Homo sapiens: one gene and its partner. The protein of the gene in region 2 purifies or fractionates together with the protein of the main gene of each other region. This does not show direct contact. Each region holds a gene or a part of one and is shown on either strand. Other genes may lie near its edges. The genes, in order: C15orf39 and DYNC1I1.

Region 1 (3,818 bases), on a different chromosome or scaffold from region 2:
CCTGGCTAATTTTTTTGTATTTTTAGTAGAGACAGCGTTTCACCATGTTGGTCAGGTTGGTCTTGAACTCCTGACCTCAAATGATCCGCACACCTCGGCTTCCCAAAGTGCTGGGATTACAGGTGTGAGCCACAGCACCTAGCCACCTCCCTGGACTTTCACACACGCCCCTGACGCTGTCTTGGCCCCACCCTGCCATGTGCCTAGGAATCGCCATCTGCAGCTTGGGGGCTGGGGGTGGATCCAGGCTCCTCATGCTCTGGGACCTTCCTGCTGGTGCTGCAGCACCATCTGCTGGGCTGCCCTGACTCCTGCGGAGGGGGAGGAGTGGGGCGAGAGGGGTGTGGCTTGTACAGACTGATGTCCCCAGTTACCTCTCCTAGGGGACTGCTCTCCAGAGCCAAGTCCAGTATCTCAGCATTGGCTTTGGGCCTAGGGACCTGGGCTGGAGGCCCGACTCTGCCATTTTTGACAAGATCAGCAGGTCAGAGGAGTGTCACAAGAAATCTGTGAATTTGTAGACAATACTCAGATTCCATGTTTTGGCTGCAGTGGGCATCACTGTGGCATCTTGGAATAGGACCCTGTGGTGGGAGGCAGGAGGCCTGCTTCTCGTTGTGTCTATTTCATTGGTGACTTTGGGATGAATGGGTCTCCTCATCTGTATATGAGGGGGTGGCGGCAGGGTATGTCAAGTGACCCTGAGACCCAGTGCCCCTACAAATTCTGAAATCCCAAGAAGGAGGGGATCTTGGGAGTTGTATGGAGGAAAATCGAACAGAAGGGGCTCCTGGAGTGGGGATGGGTGGGGGTTCTGTGTAGAATAATTCATTAAACAAAGGGTTCTGCAGCTTAAAATATACGAGTTGGGGTCAGGAGCAGTAGGTGGTTCATGCCTGTGATTTCAGCATTTTGGGAGGCCAAGATGGGAGGATCACATGAGTCCAGGAGTTCAAGACCAGCCTGGGTAACATAGTAAGACCCTGTTTCTACATAAAATACTAAAATGAGCCGGGTGTGGTAGCAGGCACCTGTGGTCCCAGCAACCTGGGAGTTGGGAGAATCACTTGAGCCCAGGAGGTTGAGACTGCGGTGAGCCAAGTTCATGTCATTGCACTCCAGCCCGGGCAACAGAGTGAGACCCTGCCTCAAAAAATACATACACGAGTTGGAAACCTCTGTCACGTGGCTCATGCACTCACAGTCTTAACTGAGCATCATTTAAGCGCCAGGTTCTTAGGTGTAGCCGTGAGCTGATGAGAGCAGCAGCCCTCTGTTGCTTTGCCTGTAGCCTGTTTTCCTGACAGCCCCTGCCTTTCTCTCTCTATCCCAGGTCAGAAGTTGAGTAGCAGGGGCCTAGGAGGGCTCGAAGCCTTCACAGCGATGGCAGAGAAGCGACCCCTGAGAACCCTGGGGCCTGTGATGTATGGCAAGCTGCCCCGCTTAGAGACAGACTCCGGGCTCGAGCACAGCCTGCCCCACTCTGTTGGTAACCAGGATCCCTGCACCTACAAGGGGTCCTACTTCTCCTGCCCCATGGCAGGTACTCCTAAGGCCGAGTCTGAGCAGTTGGCGTCCTGGACCCCATACCCACCCTTGTACTCTACCGGTATGGCAGGACCCCCACTTCAGGCAGACAACCTGCTGACCAACTGCCTGTTCTACCGCTCGCCAGCAGAAGGCCCTGAGAAGATGCAGGACTCCAGCCCTGTTGAGCTCCTGCCCTTCAGTCCCCAGGCTCACTCCTACCCAGGCCCACCACTGGCAGCACCCAAACCTGTCTACCGCAACCCTCTGTGCTATGGGCTCTCAACTTGTCTGGGGGAAGGAGCAGTGAAGAGGCCACTGGATGTTGACTGGACTCTGGCGACTGGGCCCCTGTTGCCCTCAGCTGACCCACCCTGCTCTCTGGCCCCAGCTCCTAGCAAGGGCCAGACTCTGGATGGCACCTTCTTGCGGGGGGTGCCAGCTGAGGGGTCCAGTAAAGACTCCTCAGGGAGCTTCTCCCCATGCCAGCCCTTCCTGGAGAAATATCAGACCATCCACAGCACGGGCTTCCTGGCCTCCAGGTACACAGGTCCTTACCCTAGGAACTCCAAGCAAGCAATGTCTGAGGGGCCCTCAAGTCCTTGGACCCAGCTGGCCCAGCCCCTGGGGCCACCCTGTCAGGACACCGGGCCCACCCACTACCCACCACCCCACCACCCACCACCCCACCCTCCACAGGCCCTGCCTTGCCCTCCAGCCTGTCGCCACCCAGAGAAGCAGGGCAGCTACAGCCCAGCACTCCCACTGCAGCCTCTGGGGGGCCACAAGGGGACCGGGTACCAGGCTGGTGGGCTGGGCAGCCCCTACCTGAGGCAGCAGGCAGCCCAGGCACCTTACATTCCCCCACTGGGGCTGGACGCTTACCCCTACCCCTCTGCCCCTCTCCCAGCACCCTCTCCAGGCCTCAAGCTGGAGCCGCCTCTCACTCCACGGTGCCCATTGGACTTTGCCCCCCAGACACTGAGTTTTCCTTATGCCCGGGATGACCTCTCTCTCTATGGAGCATCCCCTGGGCTTGGAGGGACACCACCTTCCCAGAACAATGTGCGGGCTGTGCCACAGCCTGGTGCCTTCCAGAGGGCATGCCAGCCTTTGCCAGCGAGCCAGCCCTGCTCAGAGCCTGTGAGGCCTGCACAGGAAGCCGAAGAGAAGACCTGGCTGCCCAGCTGCAGGAAAGAGAAGCTCCAGCCCCGGCTCAGTGAGCACTCTGGGCCGCCCATCGTCATCCGAGACAGTCCAGTTCCCTGTACCCCCCCAGCACTGCCCCCCTGTGCCCGGGAGTGCCAGTCTCTTCCACAGAAGGAGGGCGCAAGGCCACCCAGCTCTCCACCAATGCCTGTCATTGACAATGTCTTCAGCCTGGCCCCCTACCGTGACTATCTGGATGTGCCGGCACCCGAGGCCACAACTGAGCCTGACTCTGCCACAGCTGAGCCTGACTCAGCCCCAGCCACCAGTGAAGGTCAGGACAAAGGCTGCAGGGGGACCCTGCCTGCCCAGGAGGGCCCCTCAGGGAGTAAACCCCTAAGGGGCTCACTTAAGGAGGAGGTAGCCCTGGATTTGAGTGTGAGGAAGCCCACAGCAGAGGCCTCCCCTGTCAAGGCTTCCCGTTCTGTGGAGCATGCCAAGCCTACTGCAGCCATGGATGTGCCAGATGTGGGCAACATGGTGTCAGATCTGCCAGGCCTGAAAAAGATAGACACAGAAGCACCAGGCTTGCCTGGGGTGCCAGTGACCACAGATGCCATGCCAAGGACCAACTTCCACAGCTCTGTGGCCTTCATGTTCCGAAAGTTCAAGATCCTCCGTCCGGCACCTTTGCCTGCAGCCGTGGTCCCGTCCACGCCCACCTCAGCTCCTGCTCCCACACAGCCTGCACCCACCCCCACATCTGGGCCCATTGGACTGCGGATTCTCGCTCAACAGCCCTTGTCTGTGACCTGCTTCAGCCTGGCACTGCCCAGCCCTCCAGCCGTAGCTGTGGCCTCCCCTGCCCCTGCTCCAGCTCCATCCCCTGCTCCGGCTCGAGCTCAGGCTCCAGCTTCAGCCCGGGATCCAGCTCCAGCTCCAGCTCCAGTTGCAGGCCCTGCTCCAGCATCTACTTCAGCCCCAGGGGACTCCCTGGAGCAGCATTTTACAGGACTACATGCGTCCCTGTGTGATGCTATTTCTGGCTCCGTCGCCCACTCTCCTCCAGAGAAGCTTCGCGAGTGGCTAGAGACGGCTGGGCCCTGGGGCCAGGCTGCGTGGCAGGACTGCCAGGGTGTGCA
Region 2 (3,818 bases):
CTTGCTATAAGTAACTTTTTTGTTTATCCTTTCAACTTCTAATTATATAATTATAAACAATGATAATATACTATTTGCACTTCTCTCCACTTTGCTTTACTCATTTAAAAATGTATCTTAGGGATCACTCCATAATAGAACATAGAAGTCTTCTTCATTTTTTCTTATACCTGAATAATGTTACTCTCTTGGGTGGAGGTACCATACTTTTGATTCACACAGCACTGTACTGATAGAGATTTTTGAGTTGTATTCATTCTTTTGCTATTCAAATAATCTTTCAGTGAATGTCCTTCTCCATATGTCTTCTGTCTTATTTTTGCTGGTATATCTTTGGCATAGATTCCTAGAAGTGGAAATTGTTCTGTTAAAACATGTATTATTTTTAGATATTGCTAAATCCTCTTCCACAGTGTTGAGCCATTTTGCATTTCCAATGGAAATGTATGAGAACAGCTGGTTTCTTTCGGCCTCATCACAGAGTATGTTGCAAAACTTAGATTTTTGTCAATCTGATAGTTGGAAATATGTTTCTCAACTTGGTTTTAATTTTAATTTCTCTTATAAATGAGGTTGTTATCTTTTCATATAGTTAAAAGCAAATTCTGTCCTCTTAACATGGTTTTTTCCATTAATACCCATGAAGCTGCAAAGAAAATTCTAATTTGTCTTCTATTTCCTGGGTTACTTTTTCATCTCCCTTTTCTAGTTCAATTTCTATTTATTTCCTAAGTATTGCTCTCCCTCCAGATTGCATGTTAGTGTTTCTTTTAAAATCCACTGCTGGGCCAGGTGTGGTGGCTCATGCCTGTAATCCCAGCACTTTGGCAGGACAAGGCGGGCAGATCATTTGAGGTTGGGAGTTCAAGACCAGCCTGGCCAACATGCGAAACCCCATCTCTACTAAAAATACAAAAATTAGGTGGGCATGGTGGTGTGTGCTGTGGAATCCCAGCTGCTAGGGAGGTTGAGGCAGGAGAATCACTTGCACCTGGGAGGCAGAGGCTGCCGTGAGCCAAGATAGTGCCATTGCACTCCAGCCTGGGTGACAGAGCGAGACTATGTTTCAAAAAAAAGAAAAAAAAAAAAAACTACTCATTTGTGAAGATCACTGCTATTCTAGTGCATACGTTCTGTTTGGAGGGCTCTCTCTTCTTCTGACTCACATATCAAACTGCTTAATGGAGATCTTGAAATGCCTCTCCCGGGCACCTTTAGCTCAACATATGCAAAGCTCTGCCCCAGCATGTCCTTCCCCTGCTGTTCTCCAGTGCAGTGAGTGCTACACTCACCAGCTGCCCAGGTCTTAAACCTGGGTTATCTGCTGATGACTCCCTCTCCTACCTTCCTTCTATCAAATCAATCACCAGTTTCTGTGGCTTTTATCTCTTAAATGGTTCTCAAATGCATTTATTTCTCTCCATCTCAGACTACTGGTTTAAGTCACTGTCATTTCTTTCCTAGATTATTGTGCCTTCCTTCCAAGTGGTCTCAGCTTTTCTTCTTGCTCTCAAGCATGGAGAGAATTATATTTTATTTTACTATTTTATTTTATTTTATTTTATTTTAATTTTGAGATGGAGTCTGGCTCTGTCACCCAGGCTGGAATGCAGTGGCCCAATCTCGGCTCACTGCAACCTCTGCCTGACAGGTTCAAGTGATTCTCCTGCCTCAGCCTCGAGAGTAGCTGGGACTACAGGCATGTACCACCATATGTAGCTAATTTTTCTATTTTTAGTAGAAATGGGGCTTCACCATGTTGGCCAGGCTGGTCTCAAACTCCTGACCTCAAGCGATCCACCCACCTCGGCCTCCCAAAGTGCTGGGATTACAGATGTGAGCCACAGCTCCCAGCCAGAATTACCTTTAAAAACATAACATAGGGCCATTTACCAGCTTAAAAACTTCCAATAGCTCAAAATAAAAATAAACAACCAATCAACGAACCAAACAAAAAAAAACCCAAGTCCCAAATCATATATTTCCATAGGTACATATGTAAGTAAGTAGATACCACCAAGCTCCAGAACATAGACATGAAACTGATAAAAGTTTACCCCTGGGGAGGGGACTGAGGTGCAGGCAGTGAAGGGGGTGTTGTGGATGGGGTTGGGGTTGGGGTAGGTAGAGGAGGACTGCAGCTTTATCATTATTTGAATTGTTTGAATTTTTTATAGTTAGAATATTTTCAAGTATTACCTATATGTGTAAAAGTAAATAAAATGGACTTAACTAGCTCTGAGGTAGACTGAGCTCACCAGAAGGTATATGAATTCCCAATGCCAGGTTGCCTGGAAGAGGCTTTAGGGACAACTGTTTCCAGGGAATGAAAAACCATCCTCTGCCCTTATGTATTATCTGAGAATTTCAGTCAAGATATTCTTACCTTGGTGGTCCACAGTTTGACAGTCCAGTCAAATGATGATGTGACAAACAGGTGAGAAAAGTCGATTGGGCCCACTGCCATGTGGCAGTTAATTCCTGTCACTGGCCCTTGGTGACCTTCAAAGACCTCACCAATACCTGCTTTGCTGTAGGAAGAGCACACATGAGCAGAATTCCAGTGACCTCTGAAAAGCAATGATTGCTTAAAAACAAAACAAAACAAAAAACCCTCAACTCTGCATCTCCATAATTTAGAACAACCACACACCACCAAAATGAAATCATTTTTACAGTTATCCTGAAAGAAATTGTTTGCAAATATGTTACCCTATTTTTCATTATTTAAAAACAATGTAGGGCAATGAAATCTTTTTAAAATACAGAATTTAATATCAATATTTATTATTTAATTCTTTTTGCAGAATTCCTCAAAGCCTATCATTGCTGATGCAGCTATTTTAATGGAAACAAATACACTTAGGTCTCTGAAGCTTTTATATTTATAAGACTATTTTATTCTTGAGATAGCATTTTGCACATGGTCTGCTTTATCTCCTTTTGGGGAACCTATTGACTATAAAACTCCATCCATCCTTGAAGGAACAATCATTTATTTTTTTCAAGTAAATTTCTTAAATTACTTTAACATAGCTGAAAATGTAACACTTTGTGGAAACCCTTGTCACCACAAAATAATGCACATAATTTAAATATAATATGGAGAAAATAATGTTTTCTCTTTACTGAAAACAGAAGACAGATTTACATATCCACTGTAAATCCCATACGGGCAAGTATCTTGTCTTTCTTGTTGCCAAGTGTCTGGCATATAGTAAGTGCTCAATAAATATTTGTTGAATAAACTAGCTAAGAAAAAGAGACAAACTTATGTCTCAGTCCTTTTTTAAAACAGAAGCACATTTGAGAAATAATGATAGACATTTAAAAAATTACACACAGACATATCTTGCTTATTTAACTAAGCTGTTATTATTTGCAGCCCTCTATTATCACATAGTATTCTGCATGCAATCATATACAATTAGGAAGATGTGAGAAAACATACCAAAAATGCTATATTTAAAATATTCATGTGCATGAGGTTATAAATATGACAAATATGTAGGAATTGTAGAATCCTAATATTATGTCACTAAGAATAAAAACGAGCTCAGTTATTAAAACATTTGGGCCTCTGGAGCACCAATAAATGTCAATGTGCTTAGCAAAATTTGGAATCATGAGCAAAGTGTGGCAGTGCGTGTTCCATGTAACAGGCACTCAAAAATTATGCCCAGTGAAACTGCTAAGAGCAGTTCCACACATGATCATTTAAATTTGTTCTAATGAACCCGAGGAACTGATCTTTGAAGTGGCCCCTGGTGAGACTCCACTTGCTCTTAACAGCATCCTGAAAGGATTTATAGGGTGCA

Evidence for each region.
Region 1: the proteins of DYNC1I1 (region 2) and C15orf39 purify together in Homo sapiens (affinity purification with mass spectrometry; one large-scale study listed by BioGRID and IntAct). This does not show direct contact.

Annotation. Positions count from the first base shown.
Region 1 is NC_000015.10:75,204,666-75,208,483, forward strand, and holds part of C15orf39 (uncharacterized protein C15orf39), read left to right. Parts: intron 1-1,333; 5' UTR 1,334-1,383; coding exon 1,384-3,818.
Region 2 is NC_000007.14:96,037,990-96,041,807, reverse strand, and holds part of DYNC1I1 (cytoplasmic dynein 1 intermediate chain 1), read right to left. Parts: intron 2,532-3,818; coding exon 2,387-2,531; intron 1-2,386. UniProt on the Homo sapiens protein: Acts as one of several non-catalytic accessory components of the cytoplasmic dynein 1 complex that are thought to be involved in linking dynein to cargos and to adapter proteins that regulate dynein function.